Homo sapiens: one gene and its partners. The protein of the gene in region 1 interacts with the protein of each later gene in a biochemical or structural test. Each region holds a gene or a part of one and is shown in the gene's direction. Other genes may lie near its edges.

The links.
Region 2: the proteins of TROAP (region 1) and TRO form a complex in vitro, tested with the Homo sapiens proteins (one study listed by BioGRID).
Region 3: the proteins of TROAP (region 1) and KRT8 form a complex in vitro, tested with the Homo sapiens proteins (one study listed by BioGRID).

What each region holds. Positions count from the first base shown.
Region 1 is NC_000012.12:49,317,063-49,327,045, forward strand, and holds the start of TROAP (tastin), read left to right. Parts: upstream 1-6,192; 5' UTR 6,193-6,287; intron 6,288-6,541; 5' UTR 6,542-6,546; coding exon 6,547-6,690; intron 6,691-6,782; coding exon 6,783-6,975; intron 6,976-7,084; exon of another isoform or gene 7,085-7,092; coding exon of another isoform or gene 7,093-7,212; exon of another isoform or gene 7,213-7,326; intron 7,327-7,429; exon of another isoform or gene 7,430-7,514; intron 7,515-8,438; coding exon 8,439-8,596; intron 8,597-8,684; coding exon 8,685-8,822; intron 8,823-9,013; coding exon 9,014-9,096; intron 9,097-9,605; coding exon 9,606-9,658; intron 9,659-9,983. UniProt on the Homo sapiens protein: Could be involved with bystin and trophinin in a cell adhesion molecule complex that mediates an initial attachment of the blastocyst to uterine epithelial cells at the time of the embryo implantation.
Region 2 is NC_000023.11:54,913,794-54,924,097, forward strand, and holds the start of TRO (trophinin), read left to right. Parts: upstream 1-7,030; 5' UTR 7,031-7,085; exon of another isoform or gene 7,086-7,172; intron 7,173-7,194; exon of another isoform or gene 7,195-7,675; intron 7,676-8,409; 5' UTR 8,410-8,453; coding exon 8,454-8,498; intron 8,499-8,784; coding exon 8,785-9,975; intron 9,976-10,304. UniProt on the Homo sapiens protein: Could be involved with bystin and tastin in a cell adhesion molecule complex that mediates an initial attachment of the blastocyst to uterine epithelial cells at the time of the embryo implantation. Directly responsible for homophilic cell adhesion.
Region 3 is NC_000012.12:52,901,145-52,910,872, reverse strand, and holds the start of KRT8 (keratin, type II cytoskeletal 8), read left to right. Parts: upstream 1-5,796; 5' UTR 5,797-5,845; coding exon of another isoform or gene 5,846-5,891; coding exon 5,892-6,215; intron 6,216-8,800; coding exon 8,801-9,009; intron 9,010-9,653; coding exon 9,654-9,714; intron 9,715-9,728. UniProt on the Homo sapiens protein: Together with KRT19, helps to link the contractile apparatus to dystrophin at the costameres of striated muscle.

The sequences.
Region 1 (9,983 bases):
CGGGCGGATCATCTGAGGTTGGGAGTTCAAGACCAGCCTAACCAACATGGTGAAACCCCATCTCTACTAAAATACAAAAAATTAGCTGGGCATGGTGGCGCACACCTGTAGTCCCAGCTACTCGGAAGGCTGAGGCAGGAGAATTGCTTGAACCCGGGAGGTGGAAGCTGCAGTGAACCGACATCGCGCCACTGCACTCCAGCCTGGCGACAGAGCACGACTCTGTCTCAAAAAATAAATAAATAAATAAATAATAATAATAAATAAATAAATAAAGTGGATATGGGGCTGGGTGCAGTGGCTCACTCCTGTAATACCAGCACTTTAGGAGGCCGAAGCAGGCAGATCATCTGAGGTCAGGAGTTCTAAACCAGCCTGGTCAACATGGCAAAACCCCCCTCTACTAAAAAATATAAAAATTAGCCAGGCGTGGCCAGGCACCATGGCTCATGCCTGTAATCCCAGCACTTTGGGAGACTGAGGTGGGCAGTCACCTGAGGTCAGGAGTTTGAGACCAGCCTGGCCAACATGGTGAAACCCCATCTCTACTAAAAATACAAAAATTAGCCAAGCATGGTGGCGAGCACCTGTAATCTCAGCCACTCGGGAGGCTGAGGCAGGAGAATCGCTGAACCCAGGAGGCAGAGGTTTCAGTGAGCTGAGATCGGGCCACTGAACTCTAGCCTGGGAGACAGAGCAAAACTCTTCCTGAAAAAAAAAAAAAAAAAAAAGAGGTCGGGCGTGGTGGCTCACACCTCTAATCCCAGCACTTTGGGAGGCTGAGCCAGGCGGATCACGAGGTCAGGAGATCGAGACCATCCTGGCCAACATGGTGAAACCCCATCTCTACTACAAATACAAAAATTAGCTGGGCATGGTGGCAGGCACGTGTAATCCCGGCTACTCGGGAGGCTGAGGCAGGAGAATCCCTTGAACCCAGGAGGCAGGGGTTGCAGTGAGCCGAGATTGCGCCACTGCACTCCAGCCTGGTGACAGAGCAAGACTCAGTCTCAAAAAAAAAAAAAGAAGAAGAAGAAAAGAAAATTAGCCAGGCGTGGTGGTGCGTGTCTGTAATCCCAGCTACTTGGGAGGCTGATGCAGGAGAATCACTTGAACCCAGGAGGTAGAGGTTTCAGTGAGCCGACATCAGGCCCCTGTACTCCAGTATGGGTGACAGAGCAAGACTCCATCTCAAAAAGTAATAATAAATAAAATAAAATAAAATAATTTTTAAAAAAGTGAATGTGGGATTAATATTCATAATATAGTGTAATCTTATGAAGGAACAAAAGTAAAGACAGGAATCCAAAATAAAAAAAGCACAAAGGATATGAATAGGCATTTCAGAGAGAAGGAAGCTTTATTGGCTAACAAGAATATGAAATAGCCAGGCGCAGTGGCTCACACCTGTAATCCCAGCACTTTGGGAGGCCAAGGTGGGTGGATCACCTGAGGTCAGGAGTTGGAAACCAGCCTGGCCAACATGGCGAAACCCTGTCTCTATGAAAAATACAAAAATTAGCCAGGGATGGTTGTGGGTGCCTGTAATCCCAGCTACTAGGGGGGCTGAGGCAGGAGGATCGCTTGAACTTGGGAGGCTGACGTTGCAGTGAGCCAAGATCGTGCCACTGCACTCCAGCCTTGGTAACAGAGTGAGACTCCATCTCAAGAAAAAAAAAAAAGAATATGAAGTAACACTCAAACTCACTAGTAATCAGAGAAATGTAATTTTAAATAACTGAGAGTACACTTAATATACCTATTAGAATTGCAAATATTAGAGAGTTGTATAATATTACGTGTTGGAAAGGGTATGAGGTAATAAGAACTTTCAGTAATGATGTTGAGACTGTAAACAGCTACAGACCTGGGTTTTCTTGCTTGGTTTTGTTTTTCAGGGTTTTTTTTAGAGTGTCTCACTGTTATCAAAGCTGGCTTCAAACTCCTGAGCTCAGGCAATCCTCCTACCTCAGCCTTCTAAGAAGCTGGGACTACAAGTGTGTGCCATGCCCGGTTTACAGCTACAGATTTTCTGAAAAATAATCTGGTGCTACTTAGTAAAATTGAGCATGCATATACCTTACCACAGAAATTCCACTCCGAGGAATATGTTCCAGAGAAATTCTTGAACTGGTTCACAGGGGACTATGAAAGAGATAACTGTCTGGCATTGTGTGTAGAAGTCAGGAATGGGTAAGTAAAGTATAATGGATGCCTACCATGGAATCCTATGTAGCAGGTATAAGCAATGAATTAGATTATATGTAGTAATAAGGATGAATCCTGAAAACAGAGTTAATCAAAAAAAGTAAAAGCAGGCTGGCACAGTGGCTGACATCTGTAATCTCAGCACTGTGGGAAGCTGAGGCAGGAGGATGGCTTGAGCCCAGGAGTTTGAGACCAGCCTAGGCAACATAGCAAGACCCCATCTCTATACAAAAAAGTGTATATTAAAAATATATATTTTTTTGAGACAAAGTCTCACTCACTCTTTCTCCCAGCCTAGAGTGCAGTGGCATGATCTCTGCTCACTGCAACCCTCCCTTCTGGGTTCAAGTGATTCTCGTGCCTCAGGCTCCTGAGTAGCTGGGATTACAGGCATGCATCACCACGCCCAGCTAATTATATTTTTAGTAGAGACCGGGTTTTGCCATATTGGCCAGGCTGGTCTTAGACTCCTGACCTCAAGTGATCCGCCTGCCTTGGTGTCCCAAAGTGCTGGGATTACAGGCATGAGCCACCACGCCTGACCTTAAAAATTTTTTTAAAGAGGAAGTTCAAACATTATTTCTTCTTGGAGGTCTTCCTTGTTGATGCATTCAATCATATATTCATCTATCTATTGACTCATTCAACAAGGATTGAGCACTTTTACGAAGGATAATGCAAGGTACTAAAGATATGATGGTAGGCCAAAAATAGAGGGTCACCTTCATCATCTCCTTGGAGGTCTATTGGAGGAAACTGGGTTTAGTAAACATATTATGTTCACACTGATTAATATATAATTACCAACTAACATACATGCTCTGAGGAAACAAACATTACTTTTTGCGAGCACATAGCCAAGAGGTCTTTACTAGATTGGGGTGGGTGGTAGGTAGAGGGGTGCAAGGAAGGCCTGAGGAAATAACAATGGGAATCAATTTGGAGGCATAAATAGGCCAAGTGGAAGTGAAAAGGACATTCCAGAAACAGGGACCATATAGAGCAATCAGGACAAACTTGAGGAATTGAAAGAAGCCATGAAGTTGGAGATATTAATAGAAGGGGAAGAGTGGTAGAAGATGGAGGGTTTCAGTGGGGAGAGGTCAAGGGATAGTGGTAGCCTGACTTGATGTGCATTTTGGAAAGATTACTCTAGCTGCTATATGGAGAATGGAAGAGTGTGAAGAGAAAGAGAGAATAGGGGATGGGAGACCAACTAAGACACTCTTGCAATTGCCTAGGTGAGACTGAGGTGGATTAGGGTGGTGCTAACAAAGAACAAGAAAGTAGATGGGCCGGGTGCGGTGGCTCACGCCTGTAATCCCAACACTTTCGGAGGCCGAGGCAAGTGGATCACTTGAGGTCAGGAGTTCGAGACCATCCTGACCAGCATTGTGAAACCCCGTCTCTACTAAAATACAAAAATTAGCTGGGCATGGTGGCTGGTGCCTGTAATCCCAGCTACTAAGGAGGCTGAGGCAGGAGAATCGCTTGAACCCGGGAGGTGGAGGCTGCAGTGAGCTGAGATCAGGCCACTGCACTCCAGCCTGGGGGATAGAGCAAGACTCTGTCTCAAAAAAAAAGAAAGAAAGAAAAAGAGAGAGTGAGAGAGAGAGAGAGAAAGAGAGAGAGAAAAAAAAAGAGAAAGAAAGAAAAAGAGAGAAAGAAAAAAGAAAGAAAGAAAGAAAAAGAAAAAAGAAAGAAAGAGAAAGTAAGAAATTTTTTTTCTTTTTTGAGACAGAGTTTCACTCTTGTCACCCAGGCTGGAGAATGCAGTGGCACAATCTTGGCTCACTGCAGCCTCTGCCTCCTGGGTTCAAGTGATTTTCCTGCCTCAACCTCCCAAGTAGCTGGGATTACAGGCATCAGCCACCATGCCCAGCTAATTTTTGTATTTTCAGTAGAGACGGGGTTTCACAATGTTGGTCAGGATGGTCTCAAACTCTTGACCTCAGGTGATCCGCCCACCTCGGCCTCCCAAAGTGCTGGGATTACAGTCATAAACCCAGCCGAAAGTAGATGATCTTTTTGTTGTTGTTTGTTTGGTTTTTTTTTGAGACGGAGTTTCGCTCTTGTTGCCCAGGTTGGAGTTGCAGTGGTGCGATCTCGGCTCACCTCAACCTCCGCCTCCTGGGTTCAAGCGATTCTCCTGCCTCAGCCTCCTGAGTAGCTGGGATTACAGGCATGAGCCACCAAGTCCGGCTAATTTTTGTGTTTTTAGTAGAGACGGTTTTCTCCATGTTGGTCAGCCTGGTCTTGAACTCCCAACCTCAGGTGATCCCCCTGCCTTGGCCTCCCAGAGTGCTGGGATTACAGGCGTGAGCCACCGCGCACAGCCTGAAAGTAGATGAATTTTAAAGATGCATACAATTAGTAAAGATACCTTACGTATCTTTAAATTTTTTTTTATAGAAACAGGATCTTGCTACACTGTCTAGGCTGGTCTGGAACTCCTGGCCTCAAGCGATCCACCTGGGCCATCCAAAGTGCTGGGAAAGACGCCTGTAACCCCAGGCTAGACAACGTAGCCAGATCTTGTCTCTACAAAAAAACACAAAAATTAGCTGGTGGCAGGCACCTGTAGTCCCAGCTACTTGAGAGGCTGAGGTTCCCACCTCAGGAGGCCGAGGCTGCGGTGAGCTGAGATCGCACCACTGCACTCCAGCCTGGGCGACAGAGTGAGACCCTGTCCCAAAAATGCATAAATAGTAAAACTAGTGAGAGTGAATGAGAGATGGGATATGTAAAGGGAGTGGGAGGAGTTAAGGAGTAACTCCTCGGTTTCTGGCTTGTGTAAGAATAACTTCTGTGATTGGTGGGGAAAATCCACCAGAGTTCTGTTAAGTGTTGTTCATTTCCTGTCCCCCGTTAGGGGTTACCCCTTCCATCTTAAGCAGGATATTCTAGGATCTCTCAGTCTCACAGCCTTGCCCACCAATAACCAGCAGGTGAGCCCCCTCTCCCCAGACCTCTAGATCTGCAAAAGGCAACCTGGAGGCAAGGAAATCCCCAGCTGTGAGTAGCCATTCAATTCTGGTGCTGTGGTAACTGAGTTCAAAAACAATGAGTCTTGTTACCTACCCGTAAAATGAAAGACACCTCATCAGACACCTCACTGGATTGTGAGGCTCCAAGGAGCACACATATTGTTAGGCTCAGTTCGATTCCCTCCAGCCCTCTCCGCCCGTTTGAAGGCAGTTCCTTATCCCGGAGACAACGTACAGATGTTCTCTCTTTCCCTCTTTATTTTTTTTAAGACAGGGTCTCTGTTGCCCAGGCTGGAGTGCAGTGGCGCGACCACAGCTCACTACAGCCTCAACCTCCTGGGCTCAACACGATCCTCCTGCCTCAGCCTCCAGAGCGGCTGGGACTACAAGCGCGCACCACTGCACAGGGATTATTATTATTATTTTATTATTTTGTAGAGAAACGGGTGGGAGTGGTCTCGCTATGTTGCCCAGGCTGGTCTCAAACTCAGCTCAAGAGATCCTCCCGCCTCGGCGTCCCAAAGTGTTGGGATTACAGGCGCCTGCCACCGCGCCCGGACGCAGATATTTTCTATGGGCATCTGGAATGGCGTCCCCAAAGCTTGGCGCCGTGCTATGGTCAAGCCGGGTCGGGGGCTCGGGCCAGCCTTCAACACCGTTGGCAGCAATCGGAACGATCAACTGTACCCTCAGTACCGCGACCTCGCCCGGTCCTGCCAATGGCCGGCCCCTAGCCGGTCCTGAGGCCTCGCGAGAGCTCCCGTGGCTACGCCTTCCCCGGCCTCGGAACGGCCCCATCCTTCCTCTTTCCCCGCCTCCCAGCGGCGCTCCACTCTCGGATTGGCTGATTGATCCGAGTCAGTTTTTTTCCTCGCCAGAAAGCGGTTCGACAATTGGTCCTTCTTTTGGCCCCTCCTGCGATGCCCGCGGATTGGACGGCTGAGTCTGGCTACGCGGGCCTCCGCGGGAGCGCGACCGGGCCAATCAAGAGCTTGGCGTATTTTACAAACTGAGAAAGTAGCTCCAGCAGCACCCGAGAGGGTCAGGAGAAAAGCGGAGGAAGCTGGGTAGGCCCTGAGGGGCCTCGGTAAGGTAAGGCACGGGGGTCTTGAAGGGAACGAAGGCTGCTGGGTTCATAGGGAGGAGGGCAGTTTGGGGCCCGAGGGCGAAAGAGTAGGCTCGGGGTGTCTGGAGATAGCACCCATAAGAGCGGTCTTGCAGGCGCCGGGGGCTTGTGGGCGCGTGGATTAGGGCGGAGGTATCAGGGATGGCAGGACAGGTGCCCCGAGAACTGGTTGATCTTTGATCTTAGATTCTGCCTGCCTTCTTCCCCGTCTCAATTGTAGCCATCATGACCACCCGGCAAGCCACGAAGGATCCCCTCCTCCGGGGTGTATCTCCTACCCCTAGCAAGATTCCGGTACGCTCTCAGAAACGCACGCCTTTCCCCACTGTTACATCGTGCGCCGTGGACCAGGAGAACCAAGATCCAAGGGTAAGAGGGGCCTAATGGGGGAAGACAGTAGTCACACCAGTAATGCACCCCAACACTAAACCTCACCTTTTTGTCCCCGCTCCCTCCCCTAGAGATGGGTGCAGAAACCACCGCTCAATATTCAACGCCCCCTCGTTGATTCAGCAGGCCCCAGGCCGAAAGCCAGGCACCAGGCAGAGACATCACAAAGATTGGTGGGGATCAGTCAGCCTCGGAACCCCTTGGAAGAGCTCAGGCCTAGCCCTAGGGGTCAAAATGTGGGGCCTGGGCCCCCTGCCCAGACAGGTACCTGTTGGAGCCATGGTAACACGGCCTCCATGGCTGAGTAGGGGACTAGGAAGGGTAAAAGTGGGGTTTTGGGGTTTTGCACTCACTCCTGCTGTCTCCTACTTACTGTGATAGTCCTGGTCCCAGCTCCTGGAAAGCTCTTTGCTCTTAGAAGATCTCCCTTTCCTCCAGCAAAATGTCATCTCGCCAGGTGCCATGGCTTGTACCTGTAATCACAGCTACTCAGGAGGCTGAAGCAGGAGGATCACTGGAGGCCAGGAGTTGGAGACCAGCCTGGATGACAGAGGGAGATCCCATCTCTTTAAAAAATAAATAAATAAATAAATAATAAATATCACTTCTTCTGAAGCCTTTTCCAGTTCCCCATGTCACAATCAGTTGCTCTGTGTTCTCCTAATACTTTGCAGCACTTCTTTTATAACATGTATATACCTTGGCTTGAGTCTGTTACCTGTCTATAGTTTGATGATAGCCTCTTGAGGATAGGGGCTTTGTCTTATTCTTATGGGACCCCAGTGCTTAGAATAGTGTCTTATGTAACATTCTATGAACATTTGGTGACCAGGTGTGGTGGCTCACGCCTGTAATTCCAACACTCCTCCGAGGCAGGAGGATCATTTGAGCTCAGGAGTTTGAGACCAGCCTAGGCAACATAGTGAGACCCCATCTCTTTTTCTCTTTTTTTTTTTCTTTTCTTTTTTTTTTGTGGAGACAGAGTCTTACTCTATCCCTCAGGCTAGAGTACAGTGGCATGATCTCGGCTCACTGCAACATCCACCTCCCAGGTTCAAGCGATTCTCATGCCTCACCCCGAGTACCTGGGATTACCAGCACCTGCCACCACACCCAGCTAATTTTTGTTTTCTTTCTTTTTTTTTTTTTTTTTTTTGAGACAGAGTCTCACTCTGTCACTAAGCTGGAGTGCAGTGGCACGATCTTGGCTCATTGCAACCTCCACCTCCCAGGTTCAAGTGATTCTCCAGCCTCAGCCTCCTGAGTAGCTGGTACTACAGGCGCGCGCCACCAGGTCCAGCTAATTTTTTTTTGTTTTTGTTTTTTGTAGAGATGGGGTTTTACCATGTTGGCCAGGCTGGTCTCAAACTCCTGACCTCAGGTGATCCACCTGCCTCAGCCTCCCAAAGTGCTGGGATTACAGGAGTGAGCTACCGCACCCAGCCAATTTTTGTATTTTTTTAGTGGAGACAGGGTTTTGCTATGTTGGCCGGGTTGGTCTCAAACTCCTGACCACAGGTGATCCACCCGCCTCGGCCTCCCAAAGTGCTGGGATTACAGGCATGAGCCACTGCACCCAGCCATCTATTTCTTAAAAAAAAAAAAAAAAATAAGCCAAATTCAATTGAATGAGTCTCTTGCTCACCTTGTACCTCAAAGTTCCTATGCTAGGGGCCCTATCCCCCTCAGCCTTCCCCCTTCCTTTTCCTTCTCCTCTTTCCTTGCAGAGGCTCCAGGGACCATAGAGTTTGTGGCTGACCCTGCAGCCCTGGCCACCATCCTGTCAGGTGAGGGTGTGAAGAGCTGTCACCTGGGGCGCCAGCCTAGTCTGGCTAAAAGAGTACTGGTTCGAGGAAGTCAGGGAGGCACCACCCAGAGGGTCCAGGTAATGAAACAGGATGTGAGGAGACCAGGCTAGGGGGCACTGAGGGGGGCATCCTGAGCAGTGCTGACAGCCTCTGTTGGTGTCCCAGGGTGTTCGGGCCTCTGCATATTTGGCCCCCAGAACCCCCACCCACCGACTGGACCCTGCCAGGGCTTCCTGCTTCTCTAGGCTGGAGGGACCAGGACCTCGAGGCCGGACATTGTGCCCCCAGAGGCTACAGGCTCTGGTGAGTGCCCTTGAGGGGCTGATAGTCGGTGCTTCTGGGAGCTCCTTCCAGGGACAAAGCTGGGCTCTGGGAGAAGAGGTACCTCATGATGAGGCAAGGGATCCTACTGGGGGAGATGGGGTTGGTGGTGAGGCCTGAGGGTTTGGGGTCCACCTCTGATTCCGTTTTCATCTCTTGCTCCTGTGGATCAGATTTCACCTTCAGGACCTTCCTTTCACCCTTCCACTCGCCCCAGTTTCCAGGAGCTAAGAAGGGAGACAGCTGGCAGCAGCCGGTGAGAAAGGAGAGGGTGTGGGAGAAGGTCATCTGGAAAAGAATGAACCAGTGTCTGATACAGGAGTCCCCCAGAGTTGGGGCCTTCCAGGAGCTTTAGGACTCCCCACCAACTCAGGAGGGGAAGCAAGAAACCTGTGATTACCCGGGATGAGCCCTTGGGATAGGGTTCAGGCTTTCACAGCCAGGCCTCAGTGTGACATCAGTTTACTCAAGTCATGGGGGGACAGGGAGGACAGAAATGTGCTATCTCTTTTGTTTAGTGGCTAGAGTATAGACTGTGGCAATAAGTGGGATTTGGGTTTATATCCTAACTCTTAACACTTACTATTTGTGCAAGCTTGCCTTCACCTCTCTGAGCTTTGGTTTCTTTGTCAAGTGAGAATAACATTTGTACCATCATTAGTTGTCATGAGAATGAAATGAGATGATGTTTGTAAAGCACTTAGCACATGTCCAGCTCATACTTGGTATTCAGTGACTGCTGGCTAATGTCCTTATTGTCATCAGGACTTCAGTGAGCCAGGCCTCAGGATTGCTCCTGGAGACCCCAGTCCAGCCTGGTAAGTGTTTCTGGCGTGGGGAGAGAACAGGGGCAGTTGGGCTGCCTGAAGCAGGGAACAAGACCAGAGAAAACTCAGCAGGCTGGGAGGGAGCATGAGGAAGTGGGAGGCCGGGAGGCTAGGTCAGAAGGAGAAGGAGAAGAGACCTTCTAGATAGGCCAGCGATTGGCACAGTTGCACTTTTGTCTAAGGAGATGGTCTCCATTTCGGCCCTCTCTCTGCCACTTCCTGCAAGATTTATCTTCCACTCACTGTTTATCCCCAGCCCCTAAGTGCCATCACCACATCCCCAGCCTACTCAGACGTTCAGATTAATAAGTGTTTA
Region 2 (10,304 bases), on another chromosome or scaffold:
TATATCTTCTTTTAAGAATTGTCTATTCATGTCCGCTTTTTGATGGGATTGTTTTTTCTTGCTGATTGGTTTCAGTTCCTTGTAGATTCTGGATATTAGTTATTTGTTAGATATATACTAATACGTATATCAGTATATATATACGATATACTAATACGTATATCGTATATATATACTATATACTAATACGTATGTCAGTATATATATACTATATACTAATACGTATGTCAGTATATATATACTATATACTAATACGTATGTCAGTATATATATACTATATACTAATACGTATGTCAGTATATATATACTATATACTAATACGTATGTCAGTATATATATACTATATACTAATACGTATGTCAGTATATATATACTATATACTAATACGTATGTCAGTATATATATACTATATACTAATACGTATGTCAGTATATATATACTATATACTAATACTATGTCAGTATATATATACTATATACTAATACGTATGTCAGTATATATATACTATATACTAATACGTATGTCAGTATATATATACTATATACTAATACGTATGTCAGTATATATATACTATATACTAATACGTATGTCAGTATATATATACTATATACTAATACGTATGTCAGTATATATATACTATATACTAATACGTATGTCAGTATATATATACTATATACTAATACGTATGTCAGTATATATATACTATATACTAATACGTATGTCAGTATATATATACTATATACTAATACGTATGTCAGTATATATATACTATATACTAATACGTATGTCAGTATATATATACTATATACTAATACGTATGTCAGTATATATATACTATATACTAATACGTATGTCAGTATATATATACTATATACTAATACGTATGTCAGTATATATATACTATATACTAATACGTATGTCAGTATATATATACTATATACTAATACGTATGTCAGTATATATATACTATATACTAATACGTATGTCAGTATATATATACTATATACTAATACGTATGTCAGTATATATATACTATATACTATACGTATGTAGTATATATATACTATATACTATAAGTATGTCAGTATATATATACTATATACTAATACGTATGTCAGTATATATATACATATACTAATACGTATGTCAGTATATATATACATACACTAATACGTATATTAGTATATATATACATATACTAATATGTATGTGAGTATATATACTAATATACATATGTATACTATATGTATACTAATATGTATACTAATATACATATTAGCATATATACTAATATACATATTAGCATATATACTAATATACATATTAGCATATATACTAATATACATATTAGTATATATACTAATATACTTATACATATTAGTATATATACTAATACACTTATACATATTAGTATATATACTAATATACTTATACATATTAGTATATATACTAATACACTTATACATATTAGTATATATACTAATACACTTATATATATTAGTATACACACTAGTATATATATCTATATATCTGGATATAAGTTATTTGTCAGATATATAGGTATATATTATATGTTATATTATATATTATATATATAGTCAATAATAATTTAATTGTACATTTAAAAATAAGTAAAAGAGTATATATATCATGATATATTATATAATATATAATATTAAGTAATATATACTTTATATTATATATAATCACAGTTTATCTACTTGTTGATTGATGGGCATTTATATATACACACACACTCACACACACACACACACACACACACACATATATATATATATATATATATATATATATACACACCATAGAATGCTACCCAGCTGTAAAAAGGTATGAAATAATCACATTCTCAGCAACCTGGATGGAATTGGAGACCATTATTCTAAGTGAAGTTAACTCAGGAATGGAAAGCCAAACATCATCGTATGTTCTCACTTAAGTGGATGTTAAGCTGTGAGGACGCAAAGGCCTAAGAATAATACAATGGACTTTGGGGACTTGGGGGAAAGGTTGGGAGGAGTTGAGGGATAAAAGACTACACATTGGATACAGTGTACACTGCTCGGTGATGCATGCACCATAATCTCAGAAATCACCACTACGGAACTTATTCATGTAACCAAACACCACTTCTTCCCTTAAAACCTATTGAATTTAAAATTAAAAAAAGAAATACAACTGATTTTTGTATGTTGAATTTGTTTCTTAGTTATTTTTTGTGGATTCTTTATCTACATATAAAGTTATGTGGTCTGCTAACAGGGACAATTAAACTTCTTTTTTTTCCAAATTGGATTACATTTCTTTCTCTTGCTGAGGATGTCAGTACTATGTTGAATATAAGTGGTGAGAGCAGGCATACTTGCTTTATTCCTGACCTTAGAGAAAAGGCTTTCCACTTTTCACCATTGAGTAGGATGTTAGCTATAGGTTTGTTGTATATGAGCTTTATTGTATTGAGGTACGTTTCCTTTTATACCTAATTTGCTGAGCGCTTTTTCTTAAAATCAAGAATTATTGTTGAATTTTATCAACGCCTTTTCTGCATCTACTGAGATGATCATGTGGTTTCTGTCCTTTATTCTGTTAAGGTATTCTATCACATTTAGTGATTTGCATGTGTTGAACCATCCTTGCATCCTTGGGATAAATCACACTTGATCATGATGAACGATCTTTTTAATATGGTGTTGAATTTGGTTTGCTAGTATTTTGCTGAGGAGTTTGCATCTATGTTCCTCAGGGATACTGGTCTGTAATTTTCTTTTCTTCTAGTGTCTTTGTCTGGTTTTGGTGTCAGGGTAATTCTGGTTCTGTAAAATGACTTTGGAAGTGTTTCTTTCTCTTCAATGTATTGGTAGAATTTGAAAAGGATTGATATTCATTCCTCTTTAAATGTTTGGTAAAATTCAGCAGTGGATCCACCAGGTCTGGAGATTTTCTTTGATGAGAGACTTTTATCACTGATTTAGTCTCCTTTCCCATTACATATCTGTTTAGATTTTCTATTTCTTCAAGCTTAAGTCTTGGTAGGTTTTATGTGTCTAGGAATGTATCCATTTCTTCTAGGTTATCCAATTTCCTGGCATATAATTGTTCTTAGTATTCTCTTAAAATCTTTTGCTTTTCTGTGGTATTAATTGTAATGTCTCCTCTTTCATTTCTGATTTTGAGTCTTCTCTTGTTTTTTCTTAGTTGATCTAGCTAAGGGCTTGTCAATCTTATTTATCTTTTCATAAAACCAACTCTTGGTTTCACTGATTTTTTTCCTATTGTTTCTCTAATCTCTACTTCATTTACTTCTGCTCTGATCTTTATTATTTCCTTTTTTCTACTAATTTTGAGCTTATTTGTTCTTTTTTTTCCAGTTCCTTGAAGTGTGATGTTAGATTGTTTGGGATCTTTTTTCTTTTTGATGTATGTATTTATTGCTATAAACTTCGTTCTTAGAAGTGCTTTTGCTGCATTCTATAAGTTTTAGTATGTTGTATATACATTTTCGCTTGTCTCAAGATATTTTAAATTTTCCCTTTAATTTCTTCCTTGACGTATTGGTTATTCTGGAATATGTTTTTTGATTTCCATATATTTATGAATGTTCCACAATTCTTATCATTAATGATTTCTAGTTCCATACCACTGTGCATATATTACTTGATGTGATTTCAATATTCTTAAATTTGTTAAGACTTGTTTTTGTCTGTCACTTTGAAAAAATTCAACAACCTTCATGCTAAAAACTCTCAATAAATTAGGTATTGATGGGATGTATCAAAATAATAAGAGCTATCTATGACAAACCCACAGCCAATATCATACTGAATGGGCAAAAACTGGAAGCATTCCCTTTGAAAACTGGCACAAGACAGGGATGCCCTCTCTCACCACTCCTATTCAACATAGTGTTGGAAGTTCTGGCCAGGGCAATTAGGCAGGAGAAGGAAATAAAGGGTATTCAATTAGGAAAAGAGGAAGTCAAATTGTCCCTGTTTGCAGATGACATGACTGTATATCTAGAAAACCCCATTGTCTCAGCTCAAAATCTCCTTAAGCTGATAAGCAACTTCAGCAAAGTCTCAGGATACAAAATCAATGTACAAAAATCACAAGCATTCTTATACACCAATAACAGACAAACAGAGAGCCAAATCATGAGTGAACTCCTATTCACAATTGCTTCAAAGAGAATAAAATACCTAGGAATCCAACTTACAAGGGATGTGAAGGACCTCTTCAAGGAGAACTACAAACCACTGCTCAATGAAATAAAAGAGGATACAAAGAAATGGAAGAACATTCCATGCTCATGGCTAGGAAGAATCAATATCGTGAAAATGGCCATACTGCCCAAGGTAATTTATAGATTCAATGTCATCCCCATCAAGCTACCAATGACTTTCTTCACAGAATTGGAAAAACTACTTTAAAGTTCATATGGAACCAAAAAAGAGCCCGCATCACCAAGTCAATCCTAAGCCAAAAGAACAAAGCTGGGGGCATCTCGCTACCTGACTTCAAACTATACTACAAGGCTAGAGTAACCAAAACAGCATGGTACTAGTACCAAAACAGAGATACAGATCAATGGAACAGAACAGAGCCCTCAGAAATAATGCCGCATATCTACAACTATCTGATCTTTGACAAACCTGAGAAAAACAAGCAATGGGGAAAGGATTCCCTATTTAATAAACGGTGCTGGGAAAACTGGCTAGCCATATGTAGAAAGCTGAAACTGGATCCCTTCCTTACACCTTATACAAAAATTAATTCAAGATGGATGAAAGACTTAAACGTTAGACCTAAAACCATAAAAACCCTAGAAGAAAACCTAGGCATTACCATTCAGGACATAGGCATGGGCAAGGACTTCATGTCTAAAACACCAAAAGCAATGGCAACAAAAGCCAAAATTGACAAGTGGGATCTAATTTAACTCAAGAGCTTCTGCACAGCAAAAGAAACTACCATCAGAGTGAACAGGCAACTTACAGACTGGGAGAAAATTTTTGCAACCTACTCATCAGACAAAGGGCTAACATCCAGAATCTACAATGAACTCAAACAAATTGACAAGAAAAAAACAAACAACCCCATCAAAAAGTAGGTGAAGGACATGAATAGACACTTCTCAAAAGAAGACATTTATGCAGCCAAAAAACACATGAAAAAATGCTCACCATCACTGGCCGTCAGAGAAAGGCAAATCAAAACCACAATGAGATACCATCTCACACCAGTTAGAGTGGCAATCATTAAAAAGTCAGGAAACAACAGGTGCTGGAGAGGATGTGGAGAAATAGGAACACTTTTACACTGTTGGTGGGACTGGAAACTAGTTCAACCATTGTGGAAGTCAGTGTGGTGATTCCTCAGGGATCTAGAACTAGAAATACCATTTGACCCAGGCATCCTATTACTGGGTATACACCCAAAGGACTATAAATCATGCTGCTATAAAGACACACGCACACATATGTTTATTGCGGCATTATTCACAATAGCAGAGACTTGGAACCAACCCGAATGTCCAACAACGATAGACTGGATTAAGAAAATGTGGCACATATACACCATGGAATACTATGCAGCCATAAAAATGATGAGTTCATGTCCTTTGTAGGGTCATGGATGAAATTGGAAATCATCATTCTCAGTAAACTACTGCAAGGACAAAAAACCAAACACCGCATATTCTCACTCATAGGTGGGAATTGAACAATGAGAACACATGGACACAGGAAGGGGAACATCACACTCTGGGGACTGTTGTGGGGTGGGGGGAGGGGGGAGGGATAGCATTAGGAGATATACCTAATGCTAAATGACGAGTTAATGGGTGCAGCACCCCAGCATGGCACATGTATACATATGTAACTAACCTGCACATTGTGCACATGTACCCTAAAACTTAAAGTAGAATAATAATAAAATAAAATAAAAAAGACTTGTTTTTGGCCTAACTTATGATCTATCCTGGAGAATTTTCTATGTGTGCTTGAGAATATTATATATTCTATTGGATAAAATATTCCGTAGGTCCTTTTTGTCTAAAGTGTATTTCAAGTTCAATGTTTCCCTATCGATTTTCTGTCTGGATGATCTGTGAATTGTTGAAGATGGGGTCTTGAAGTCTCCTACCATTATTGTATTGCAGTCTACTTCTCCCTTCAGATCTATTAATATTTGTTTTATATATTTAGGTGCTTCTATGTTGGGTGCATATATTAAATATGTTTATAATTATTCGATATTCACGATGAATTTATCTCATTATCATTATATAATGACCTTTAAGATCTTTTATGGTTTTTGACTTTAAGTCTATTTTATTTGACATATGTGTAGTTATCCTTGCTCTCTTTTGAATGATTGATGGAATAGATAAATGTCATGAATTGTTTTCTGCATGGGGGCACAGTGCACCATGTCACAAGAGACAGTCTAAGTACAAACTGATATTGTTAAAACATCAATATAGTCATTGTGGGATCAATAAAAACTTTTCATAGATTTTTATACATTACTGTTTTTATTCTGAATTGCATAAGATGGACGGGCACCCTATCTTTTAGTGTTTAGAACCTCTAAATGTTTTAATGTGGTAACACTTGAAAAACAGAAATGAATATGACCTAGTCCCCTGCTCCAGAGCAGCTCTAGGGAAGAGAGACATAGACACAAGGTATAACAACACTATGTAAATAGTGTTGGGATAGAGGGTCTGTAGGAAGGGTTGGTGTGGGAGTTCAGAGAACTACATTCCTCCTAGGGGAAACAGGAGAATCAAATAGGAACGGAGATACAGAGTGGGGAATAGAGAAGTCAAATGGAGAATAAGAGGGAGTGATAACTGAATAGGGGTAGTAAGAAGAAAAAGGGAGCTACATTGAGGAGAATGGAAAGTTGAAAGTAGGTATGGAGGGGAGGAGACTGACAGGCAGGAACGGAGACCCCCCTCTGGAGGCGGAAAGAGGCAGGACCACTTCCGGCCAGGGAGGGGGATAGGCTCAGACACAAGGAGAGGCTTGGAGAGAGCAGACGCCTTCTGGATTCAAGAAGACGAGGTGAGCTGAGGTACCTGGCTTTAGTGAAGACCCTGTGGGGGCTTCCTGGCTGCGGCTTCGACGTGCCTGACTCCACACGCCCCTAAGGTTTGAAGAAAACCTGCTGGAGGTTTGGGACCTAACCGCATCAAAGTCGCCTTTAGCGGTGCCTGGACCCAGTTCGCACGGGAGGAAGTAGGAGGCAGAATCCCCTTTGGGCCACAGAAAGTAACGATCTGGACTCGGTTCGGGCCGTGAAAGGGAGGGATGCAGACCTAGTTGGGACCGCAGAAAGGAAGGATCGAGAAATCCTTCAGACGGTAGCAAGAGGGGAGGAGGATACACACAGTTCGGGAGGGAGATAGGAGACGGCAGGACTCCGTTTAGGCTGGAGAAAGGGGGCAGTACCCCGTTTGGGCCACAGAATGGAGGGATCGGGACCCAGAGATAAGAGTGGGCAGCATCCCTTTTGAGCAACGGAAAGGACCAGACTCAGACAGGAGAAAGGAGGGGATATGACCCGGTTGGTTCCGGTTTGAAAGGGAAGAGACAGGACCTGGTAGGGTTTGAGAACAGGAATACACAGAAGGTTCATACAGTTGGATTTGGGGGTGAGGTATTCATGTTGCAGAAAGGGCGGAGCTGCACACTTGCAGACGTGGAAAGAGGGGGGAGTGGTGTTGGTTGGGGAAGGGGTGGTGCAGAGACGTACCGCAGAGCGGAGGGAGGGGGCTTATTAAAGGAAGGGAAGATGAAGAGAAATGCTGCAGAGCGGAGGGAGGGGGGTGTATTGGGAAGGGGCGGTGCGTGGCAGTACCGCAGAGGAGAGATGGGCGGTGTTGGGGTAGGGGCGGTGCGGAGTGGTACTGCAGAGCGGAGGGAGGGGGCTAGTGTTGGGGGAAGGGTTGGATCGAGATGTGATGCAGTTAGAAAGAGTGGGTCGGGGTGGCGCCAAGATGTTCTGTTGCTCTGAGAGCAGGGGGCAGATGTGGGATTGAGCTGGTTAGAAACTGTCCGGTTTACCAAGGCGCATGCGCGCGGAGGGCATTGAAGAATGGTTCTTTTGGGATAGAGGTGGGCCTAAGATGGGGGGTGGGGGCGCCTCTAGTCGGTGCGCATGCGCACTATCGAGTTGCGGAGGGGGCGTGTAAAGGGGTGGGGTCGTAGAACTGACTCTCTCGGAGGCAAAAGGAGCTGGGCCTTGGAAACCAGATGGCCTGGGTTTTTTAGGTATGAAAACCCAGGAGTTGAAGGGATTAGGGCCCAAGGTTACATGAGACTCCCCTAAGTCAGGATAGGTGAGATGTCTGATGAATCTCCCCCTCCCTCTCATTCTCTAACTCAGGCCCATTCCCCTCAGGCTCACCTGTTACTCGGCCTCCCAGAAAGATGGATAGGAGAAATGACTACGGATATAGGGTGCCTCTATTTCAGGTGAGGCCTCTCTGCATTCTCTCTAGGCCATCTGCCCCATCCTGAGTTCACTTACTGCTCTTCAGACCCCTTCCACCGTGTAGTTTCATAATTCCCTGCCTAACTCGTCTCAGTCCTCCCTTACATGGTGAAGGAGAGGAGAGGAAAACCTGCCTGACTCTATTCCTTCCTTGCTCCCTACCCCATTTTAATTAACCACTGCTCAGAGGAAGGGAAGGCCTTTGTGGAAAGGGATGGGCTTTAGCGAGGCCAAATGGCCCAGAGGATGGTAATCCTAAGTGTGTAGGGCCCTCTGCCTCCCCCGGGGAGCCTGGGGCTTCCCTTCCCTCCAGATATACAGACTGAGACCACAGAAGAGGACAGTGTCCTGCTGATGCATACCCTGTTGGCGGCAACCAAGGACTCCCTGGCCATGGACCCACCAGTTGTCAACCGGCCTAAGAAAAGCAAGACCAAGAAGGCCCCTATAAAGACTATTACTAAGGCTGCACCTGCTGCCCCTCCAGTCCCAGCTGCCAATGAGATTGCCACCAACAAGCCCAAAATAACTTGGCAGGCTTTAAACCTGCCAGTCATTACCCAGATCAGCCAGGCTTTACCTACCACTGAGGTAACCAATACTCAGGCTTCTTCAGTCACTGCTCAGCCTAAGAAAGCCAACAAGATGAAGAGAGTTACTGCCAAGGCAGCCCAAGGCTCCCAATCCCCAACTGGCCATGAGGGTGGCACTATACAGCTGAAGTCACCCTTGCAGGTCCTAAAGCTACCAGTCATCTCACAGAATATTCACGCTCCAATTGCCAATGAGTCAGCCAGTTCCCAAGCCTTGATAACCTCTATCAAGCCTAAGAAAGCTTCCAAGGCTAAGAAGGCTGCAAATAAGGCCATAGCTAGTGCCACCGAGGTCTCGCTGGCTGCAACTGCCACCCATACAGCTACCACCCAAGGCCAAATTACCAATGAGACAGCCAGTATCCACACCACAGCAGCCTCCATCCGAACCAAGAAAGCCTCCAAAGCCAGGAAGACAATTGCTAAGGTCATAAATACTGACACTGAGCATATAGAGGCTCTAAATGTCACTGACGCAGCTACCAGGCAGATTGAGGCCTCAGTAGTGGCTATCAGGCCCAAAAAATCCAAGGGCAAGAAGGCTGCCAGCAGGGGCCCAAATTCTGTCTCTGAGATCTCTGAGGCCCCACTTGCCACTCAGATAGTCACAAACCAAGCCCTGGCAGCCACCCTGCGGGTCAAGAGAGGGTCTAGGGCTCGGAAGGCTGCCACTAAGGCTCGGGCAACTGAAAGCCAGACTCCAAATGCTGACCAAGGGGCCCAGGCCAAGATAGCCTCTGCTCAGACCAACGTAAGTGCCCTTGAGACTCAGGTTGCTGCTGCTGTCCAGGCCCTGGCAGATGACTATCTGGCTCAGTTGAGCCTGGAGCCCACAACCAGGACCCGGGGCAAAAGAAACCGAAAGGTGAGATCTCTGACATTGCCATCCTTAACTTTGTGCTTCTTTTCCATTTCTACCCTTCTAGTTTGTTCATTTCTTCTATAAAAGTTTTACTTTGAGCTAGTCCCTGTGTTCAGATAGGCTGTGGAAGATGCTGAGAAGAAGGTGATATAGTTTCTGCTCCCTAGCAGTTCACAGATTGGTGAGGAAATAAGACATCCATACACTCAGCTACAACCTGTATGTAATACTACTTGTATTTAAATAGTAGTTACCACGTGCCAGGCTTTGTGTTGGGTACAGTTACACAGGGTATGTCTGAATGTCTTGAAAGTAACTCTTACCAACAAGGG
Region 3 (9,728 bases), 3.6 Mb from region 1:
TCCCACCTTAGTCCTCAGGTTGCCCAGCAGGAAAATCAAAACAGTGGGCCTCTGGATATCAGCTCCAGTGCTAAGCAGCTCAGGCCAGGGGAATCCTCAGGGCTGGGGTGGGGGTGGGCAGGATGCCTATAGCGGAGCCCCAGGTCCTTCCTGTTTGTTCTTTTCCTGCACTCCTGTCCGGTTGCCTGAACACCATGAGGGCTTCCCCTATCGCAATGTCAGCTTCTGAAGTTTCCTTGAAATCCTCTCAATAACTTCCACTTCCTGTCACTCAAGTCCCCAGTACCGCTGTCTTCACTGTCAGGAGTGGGACCCATTTGTGTCTGTCCTCTCGCAGTCTCTGTCTCTGTCTCTGTGGCCCTGGCCAACGGTGGTGGAGTTTCAGGTTCTGGGGACTGAACCACTCTGTTTTCCTTCCTGAGGGACAGAGTATATCACCCTTTCTAAGCAGGAACCTGCAGTGCTGTGGATTTGAGCTCTGGCCTATTTCCTCTGGGAAGAGGAAGAAAGTGTGTTCCTAAAGGTCTTGGTGTTGGGACCAGAGCTAAAGCCTGGTGCCTGACTCTGGCTGTACCGAGGAAGCTTTGAAAATGCAGACGGGGTGCGACCTGAGCACGTATACTGTTATAATCTCCCACGGGCGATCTTGATGTGATGGAGAACCAGAGTTAAGGGGAAGGACTCTGTGGACTGAGCCATAGCTGGGACCTTCCGCCTAGGCTTCATGCTCACCCAGTGGGATGACCTTCTTGGTTTGGCATCAGTGGAGAGGAGGGTGAGAGAATGTTGAAAATGTGAGAAAGGCTGTGTGCAGTGGCTCACGCTGTAACCCTAGTACTTTGGGAGGCTGAGGCAGAAGGATTGCTTGCATCCAGGAGTTCGAGTCAGGCTGGGCAACATAGTGAGATCCTGTCTCTAAAAAAAAGAAAAAAAAGTGTGGGAGACCTCAACATCTTCAGGCTGCTGGGCTTGTGTCTCCTTCCTCCACAACAAGGCTGTGCTGTCCTCCCTCACTCTTGTTCTAATAATTTCTAATCATATCTCTTATCACAAGCAAAATTTCAAACCAGAGAACATTCACAGATTTTCATCTTCAGTGCGTAAAGCTCTATGGTGGTGGATGTGGATCAAAAGCTTTCAGAGTTGGCGGGACTTGGACATTCTAATTCAAACCCTAGCAGATGTGAGAACCCCCTCCCACTGAGCCAGTGGACAGCTGGTGAGCAAGGTCCCTCTCCATGTCTCCAGGTACAGGAGGTTGCTCCCTCTCTAGGCAGTCCATTTCCATCCTGGCTGGCTTTAATCATCAGATCCATCACTGATCAAGAGCAAAAAAGTCAGCATTTGCTAAGCTTTGACAATGAAAAATTTTAGCCTTGAGGCACATAACACAAAATTAGCAATCGAATTGACTCTATTATTCATGATGCTGCTTCCTGAGGGGTGTACCCACCACCTGTGGCTTCCTATTTAAACAAATTGTTCTGCTGTCTCTATGCTAAATGCAGCTATTTCTATACCAATAATAACATTTCAAAATGCTCCATCATTTAAAGGGATTTCGGGTGCTTTTCGGGCATTGCCTTAACCCAGAGGCAGGAAGCCTCTTTACCTGGGGCATCTAAACAAACTCTTTGCTTCTTTCCCCTGACCCCTTATGCTGGGCACAAAGCCCCTGCTTTTTATATGTAGCTCATTTATGCTTTTGTGGTTATCTTTTTGTTACAACTTTGTTGAGCTGTAATTCACATACAATATAATTCAACAATCTGAAGCTTGCAGTTCAGTGATTTTTAGTATGTTCACAGACTTGTGCAGCTTCACCATCATCAAATTTGTTTATTTATTTATTTATTTTTGAGACAGAGTTTCACTCTGTCTCCCACGCAGGCTAGAGTGCAGTGGCACAGTCTTGGCTCAATGCATGCGGCCTCAACTTTCGGGGCTCAGGTGATCCTCACAACTCAGCCTCCAGGGCAGCTGGGACTACAGGCGTGTGCCGCCATACCTGGCTAATTTTTGTATTTTTTGTAGAGACGGGGGTCTCATTATGTTGCTCAGCTGGTCTCAAACTCCTGGGCTAAAGTAATCCTCCTGCCTCGACCTCCCAAAGTGCTGGGATTATAGGTAGAGCCATTGTGCCTGCCCACCACCATCAAATTTAGAACATTCTCATCACCCCAGAAAGAAACCCTGTGCTCTTTAGCATTCATCTCCATTCCTCCCCTCCCTAGGCAACCACTAATCTACTTCCTGTCTCTATGCTTTGCCTGTTGTGCACATGTCATATAAATGGAATCATAGGGTACCTGATCTTCTATGACTGTCTCCTTTCACTGAGCATACGGGTTTCAAGGCTCATCTGCATCCAACATGCATCAGTAGTTCATTCCTTTTAATTGTAACATTAGATCGTATGGATATGCCACATTAAAGAAATCCATTCGTCATTTGGTGGACATTTGTTTTGTTCCCACTCTTTGGCTATTATGAACAAGGTTGCAGCGAATGAGATCATCAGTCCTGATCTCTAAGCAAAACTTGTTCAGATCCCGGGAGGCGGAGCTTGCAGTGAGCCGAGATTGCGCCACTGCACTCCAGTCTGGGTGACAGAGCGAGACTCCGTCTCAAAAAAGAAAAAAAAAAACTTGTTCAGACCATCTCTTCCCATGATCATGAGTGATGATAACAGCTACCTCCCCACCCCACTGGCCCCAAGACTTAATGCCACTGCTCAGGGTCTCAGGGCCTTCTCTGAATTATCCTGCACCATCAGAAGTAGGGGGCCTGGCCCTCACTCTTGGCCCACAGGGAGTGAGTGTCTCCTCCTTCCCTGGTTCACTCTCCAGGAAAGGCGGTTTGAGGCAGAGTTGTCTGGGTAGGGCAGGCACCGCAAACACGTTGTTCCCTTTTGTCCGGCAGGCAGCTGTGTGTAGACCACAATGCCTTACAAGGAGTTGTACCTGTGGGCCTGCTCCAGTCTGGTTCTCTCTTCCCTCACCACTTGGCCCTAGTCCCAGGGGCCTTCTCCTTCTGCCTTTAACCCTGAAGTCCCAGGCAGGGGCCATCAGAGAGGCCAACTCTGGCCTCTTCTCCTGCACCGAGGCTGTGCTTGGGGCATCTGGGGGAAGGTTTGGCTGGGGTCTCTGGGCAATAGAGAGATGACAAATGAGACACAAACACTTCTGGCCCTAGACGGTTCTGGGCTGCCCCAGAAAAAAAGGGCTTCCCCTGGCTGGGTAAGGTCTGGGTCAGCCCTCCAGCCTGCATACTGCAGGGTCCCTGGCAACCCCCTCTGTCCTCACCTTAAACAAGGGACACTCCTAGAACCAGGGAACCAGAAAGGTGGGGTGGAGGGGACTGGAATTTCAGGAAAGGCTTTGGGGTGCTGTTTTTTTGCTCCTTGTGCTGCCTAGATCAGGACCTGAGTGCCCCCTGCTCCCTCTAACAGCAGCGTGGGGGAGGGAAGATAGGGAGAGCGCCTGTCCTCCCTTTCCAGGGCTGCCATACCCGTCTGACCAGCCCCTCCCTCCCTCCTTCCGCCTTCCCTGTCCCAGGTTTGGCACTGGGCCCAGTCCTTCTCCCTTTGGTCTTCTGTTAAAAGCTTCTCAGCCCTGGTGGGTGCGGGTGTTTGTTGGGGAGGGGGTAGCATGCCTTCCAATCACTCTTGGGAAAATTAGGCATTGTTTAAAGGAGCTGGGAGAAGGCCTGGTGTAAATAGGTGCTAACTGAATTTCCCTTGCTCCATTCAGCATAGCAGGAGGCAGGGCCTGGGGAGGGGAGGGGAGGTGAAGGAGCCACTCACTGTGCCCGCTCTTGGGATCTATGCATTTTTCTGGAAGGGACTTCAATGTGTGGGGTGTGTGTGTGTGTGTGTGTGTATGCACGCGTGCATTGTGAAGAGAGCTTGTCTGTGTGTCTGTCTTTTTAAGTTTGTCTGTCCTCCAAGGAGGGGGCTTCTGGGTCTCTCTGTCCTTCTGGGTAGGGGTCCTATGTGCCTGTCTTTCTGTGAGCCTGGGTGTCTCTCCTAGAGAAGGATGGGGAAGAAACTGTACATCTGTCCTCCCAGTAGGTGGTCACCCCCTTCCCTGGGTCAGGGCTATGTCACCTGTCCCTCTCCTCAAGGGGATCTGGCTGTCATCTGTTGGTCCTCTGAGTTCAGTTTCATCCAGTCCCCACATCACACCCTGCAGTATCTTCCAGAGAACCCAGCCCCAGCCATCAGGTAATTGCAGGTGGAATCTCTGCCTTGGGGACCTAAACCTCCTGCCTTCCACCCACAGCATGCCCTGCCTGGCCCCACCCAGGCCTGGGGTGCCTTGCTCAGCTCCCCAATCTCCAACCTCCCACAGGTGCGTGCTACGTCCCAACCTGCCCTCCTGACTCACTTTGATAATGGGAGACAGGTGCAGGGACTCTTCCTCTATTTCCTCTGGCCCGTTGGGAGCCTGGGTAAAGCAGGAGGGTCCAGGTAGCACCACGAGTGCCACACCACTCCACTGTACCCCCTGCCGTCCTGTCTCACTTCCCATGATTCACTCACTGGGAGCAATGGGAGTGACTCCCGCAAAGAGCAAGAACTATGAAGTCCCTGACATAGCTCCCATCTCCTCTTGCCCCCCCCAACCCCTGCGTTCTCTGCCTTCTAGCCCTGTTCATCATTCTCTAGGCCCTTCAGTGAGGCCTACAGTGTTCACCTGGCCCAGGGGATCCTAGGATCTTGGAAGGAGAGGAAGCCCCTGGGTTATGTTCAGGAAAAGTGCTGTGTTGGATCTCGCTCTTTTTTTTCTTTGAGATGGAATCTCGCTCTGTCGCCCAGGCTGGAGTGCAGTGGCACGATCTCAGCTCACTGCAACCTCTGCCTCCCGGGTTCAAGTGATTCTCCTGCCTCAGCCTCCTGAGTAGCTGGGATTACACCATGGCCAGCTAATTTTTGTATTTTTAGTAGAGATGGGGTTTCACCATGTTGGTCAGGCTTGTCTTGAACTCCTGACCTCGTGATCCGCCTACCTCAGCCTCCCAAAGTGCTGGGATTACAGGCGTGAGCCACCGTGCCTGGCCTTGGATCTCTTTTTATCTTGCACCTTCAGATGTAGAGGGACGACAGCCACTGTGTGTGTATGTGTATGTGTGTGTGTGTGTGTGTGTGTGCGCGTGTGATGTTTATTCACTCATTTATTTATTCATTCATTCATTCCACAAATATCTACCCAGACCCTCTTGGCACTGCACCAGGTGCTAGGGGTAGAACAGTAACCTGGAAAGATGAGGCAAATGGTTGATTTCAGATTCAAGGCTTTGGACTCCAGCTGTTCTGTCATCCAGCTCAGGCAGGCCCTCATAATCGCTTCAATCAGGGAGAACACAGGAGAGTTTCTCTGGGGTGTCGGCAGCTCAGAGGAGACCCAAATACTAGGAGACCCCTTTTTCCCATGCTTCCCAGTCCTCCAGTTTATTTCCCCCAGGAGGGAGGGAGACAAGACCCAGGAGTCAGGGTTGTAGTGGCTGGGCGGCCCAGGCAAGTCTGCTTGTTACAGGCACTTGTGCCAGGACAGGATTTCTTCCAGTTTCATATTCACTGAACTGCCTTTTCCTGGGTTTCTGGGGGTGGTGCTGGAGTGGGCTCCAGGGTTGGAACGGGCCCTTGGGTGGCGGCAGCTCTCTGCTGCCCCCACCTGAGTCCTGCCCGGAGGTGGCAGGTGACGGGTTAGGCCCAGCCCCCTCTGGGCCTAGCCACTCAGGTACGAGGCCTTTCCCCCCCATCCCCCGGGGCTGGGATCTCTTTTATAAAAGGCCATTCCTGAGAGCTCTCCTCACCAAGAAGCAGCTTCTCCGCTCCTTCTAGGATCTCCGCCTGGTTCGGCCCGCCTGCCTCCACTCCTGCCTCTACCATGTCCATCAGGGTGACCCAGAAGTCCTACAAGGTGTCCACCTCTGGCCCCCGGGCCTTCAGCAGCCGCTCCTACACGAGTGGGCCCGGTTCCCGCATCAGCTCCTCGAGCTTCTCCCGAGTGGGCAGCAGCAACTTTCGCGGTGGCCTGGGCGGCGGCTATGGTGGGGCCAGCGGCATGGGAGGCATCACCGCAGTTACGGTCAACCAGAGCCTGCTGAGCCCCCTTGTCCTGGAGGTGGACCCCAACATCCAGGCCGTGCGCACCCAGGAGAAGGAGCAGATCAAGACCCTCAACAACAAGTTTGCCTCCTTCATAGACAAGGTGAGGGTCCCCCCTGCGTGGCTGACTGTGCCCGCAGCCCCTTTCTCCTGGTAGTCCCGGTCCCTATGCACATCTCCAGCCCCCAGCTGGCGTCCTGCTGGGCCTCACCCGCCCTGGCGACACTCTCCCTTCCATCCTCCGACTCACCCCTCCCGTGCACCTTGGTTTGGGCTGGGTGAGGGTGGGGAGAGGGTCTGGACAGCCGGGATGAATCCTGGGGCTTCCTTCTTCCCTTTTAAACTGGAGGGTCTTGGAAGAGAGAGACAACTTAAGGGTACAGCCTAGTTCCCACCACCCCTCTCTACAAATCCCGTTCTTCCTCAGGTCATTCTGTCCCCAAATTATAAAAAATAATAGCGGTTATTGTTCTCACCCCAACCCGAGTTCTGACCGTCTTTTAAGCTATCGCCCTGCGGCAGTCCCAGCTGTTCGGGGACTACCCTCCTCCAGGTTCGCCTCTTCGCCAGCACTACCCCAAGGGCTCCCCAGTGGTGCCTTTGTGATTTTTTTTCTTTCTTTTCTTTTTTTTACATAGGGGTTTGGTGTGATTCTAGCATTCTAGGAGAAGGAAGTGGGTGTCTCGGTTCAAACGGGCAAATATTGATTGAGGCCTTTGGCGCCCGGAGGCCTGAGTGCGGGGGTCACAGAATGAGTCATACCCCGGCCCCTGCGCCGGCAGCGTGGGCGGGGCCGAGGGCGGGGTGAGGGGCTGCGGGCAGCAGTCTCGGGACGCTCTCCTCCACCTGGCGGAGCTCGGCGTCGGGGGCGGTGTGGGTGGGGTGGGGTGGGGTGGGGTGGGCTGGGGTGGGGTGGAGGAGGCGCCAGGGCCTGGCCTCGGAAAGCCCATGCAGGATTCAAAGTCTGCGGGCGTGGGACGCCCCGCCCGGGGTTTACGTCCTGTTAAGTTTATGGCTTCAGATAACGCGGTCGCCCACCAACGCCCCTCGCCCATTCAGCCCGTGTCCCTTTCTCGCGTCCTGTCCCTGCTCCGCCCCAGCGGCCTGGCTCCACTTTCACACAGCAGGAGCCAGGCCGGGTTTTGCAGCCCTGGGACTCCGCTGCCTGAGGGGCCCCGGGCCCCCGGCGGCCCCGAGGATTGGGCCCTTCACGCTGACTGGCTCCTGGGAGGCATTGTGGGAACGGGAGGAGGGAAATCCTGGGGCAGAGTAAGCCGGGAGGAACCGGAGCCCCAGGAACCCAGTGGTCGGGGGCCCTTGGCGCTCCAAGCGCCTGGACTTGACTTGTTGACTGCGTTTTGCTAGCCCTGGGGTCCTTATAGAGAGCAGCTAAGCATAGGCTTTGGAATCTGAATTCTTGGTTCGCACTGCTCTGCCGGTTCCTGGTTATGGACTCCCTTGCCAAGTCTTATTTCCTCATCTATAAAATGAATATGAGAGCCCCTAAATCCATATAGGCAAAAGTTTTTGCCTATTCAAACTTACATATGTAAAGAGTTCAGCAGTGCTTGGCCCACATTCCATTAGGATAAGATGTTATAATCACTTTTTTTTAAAAAATAATTTTGGGGCAGAATGACCTGGGGAAGAAAGCGATTTGCAGAGAGTGGTGGAGGGAACTAGGCTGTACCCTTAAAAGATTTCTGTCCCCTCCAGTTTAGAAGGAGTTACAAGTTTTTTTGTTTGTTTGAGACAGAGTCTCACTCTGTCGCCCAGGCTGGAGTGCAGTGGTGTGATCTCAGCTCACTGCAACCTCCGCTTCCTGGGTTCAAGCGATTCTCCTGCCTCAGCCTCCCGAGTAGCTGGGACTACAAGTGCGTGCCACCATGCCCGGTTAATTTTTGTATTATTTGTAGGGACAGGGTTTCAATATGTTGGCCAGGCTGGTCTCGAACTCCTGACTTCAAGAAATCCGCCTGCCTTGGCCACCCAAAGTGCTGGGATTACAAGCGTGAGCCTCCACGCCCGGCCTCTTTTTCAATCTTAACATCTTTAGAAAGGTTGGCTATTTTTGGCCGGGCGCGGTGGCTTACGCCTATAATCCCAGCACTTTGGGAGGCCAAGGCGGGCCAATCACAAGGTCAGGAGTTCGAGACCATCCTGCCTAAGACGGTGAAACCCTGTCTCTACTAAAAATACAAAAAAATTAGTGGGGCGTGGTGGCAGGCAGGTGCCTGTAGCCCCAGCTACTCGGGAGGCTGAGGCAGGGGCAGGAGAATGGCATGAACTTGGGAGGCGGAGCTTGCAGTGAGCTGAGATCTTGCCACTGCACTCCAGCCTGGGCGCCGGAGACTCCCAAAGAAAGCTTGGCTATTTTTATTGATGTGTAATATACAACCTATGTAAATGAAGTTAGGCCTATTGGTTTGCAAATGCAGCTTTAACATAATTACCTTACCTGTCTCCTTCCCCTACCCAATGCTGAGGGACATTGCTCCCCACCTCACCATCATGCCATGCTTTCTCCCCCTGGTCATAGGTGATCTTTCCAGAACAGCTAACCAGGTGCCTGGGGTCTGGAGACCTTACTGCTTGAGGAGTGAATTAAGAGAAAAGACTGCTTGCTTTCCTCCAGACTTTGAGCCCTGGCCTGATGTAGACCTTTTTGCTCTCTCCTCCTTCGTATAGGTACGGTTCCTGGAGCAGCAGAACAAGATGCTGGAGACCAAGTGGAGCCTCCTGCAGCAGCAGAAGACGGCTCGAAGCAACATGGACAACATGTTCGAGAGCTACATCAACAACCTTAGGCGGCAGCTGGAGACTCTGGGCCAGGAGAAGCTGAAGCTGGAGGCGGAGCTTGGCAACATGCAGGGGCTGGTGGAGGACTTCAAGAACAAGTGAGCAACTCCCACCCTCCACCCAACTGAAGTCACCGTGCTCTCCTCCACCCCTTGGGACCTTGGGACTAAGTCCCCATGGCCCTCTGTTGTGGGAAGTGCAGTCCTATCTAATTAGGGTGACCACCTGATGAGGTTTGCTCGGAACAGTCTGTGTTTATGCCCAGGTTCCTAGCACAATTGTTGATAGTACCCACCCCCTTTCAATCTCAACTGTCTGGATTTGAAGAACAAATTATGTGTCAATGTTGACATGGTAAACCTGAGACGGGAGAGATAGGCAGCCTGTGGGCCTCACTTTTGTACTTAACATTCTGGCCCCTCTTTAGTCTTGACCCTTGACCTCTAGCAAACTCTAGAAAGTTCTGTCTGAGGTCTCATGTCAGGCCCTGCTGTTAACACTCTCAAGGTGTCCAATCCGATGTGTATTCATGGATTTGGAGAGAGATTTCCTGCTTCCCACGGGCTAAGGGAGGGGTGAGGGTGGAGAGGGCAGCTGGGGAAGGCAGAAGGACCAGCCTTCTCATATCCTGCATCTCTGTGAACTGAATTTTCCTGATTTTCACAACGCCCCTGTCTCCCAAAAGACCAAGGGCAACCTCCCTTTTGCCTTCATCCTCTAATTGTAAGTCTTTTCCTCACAGGTATGAGGATGAGATCAATAAGCGTACAGAGATGGAGAACGAATTTGTCCTCATCAAGAAGGTGAGGGAGTCTCC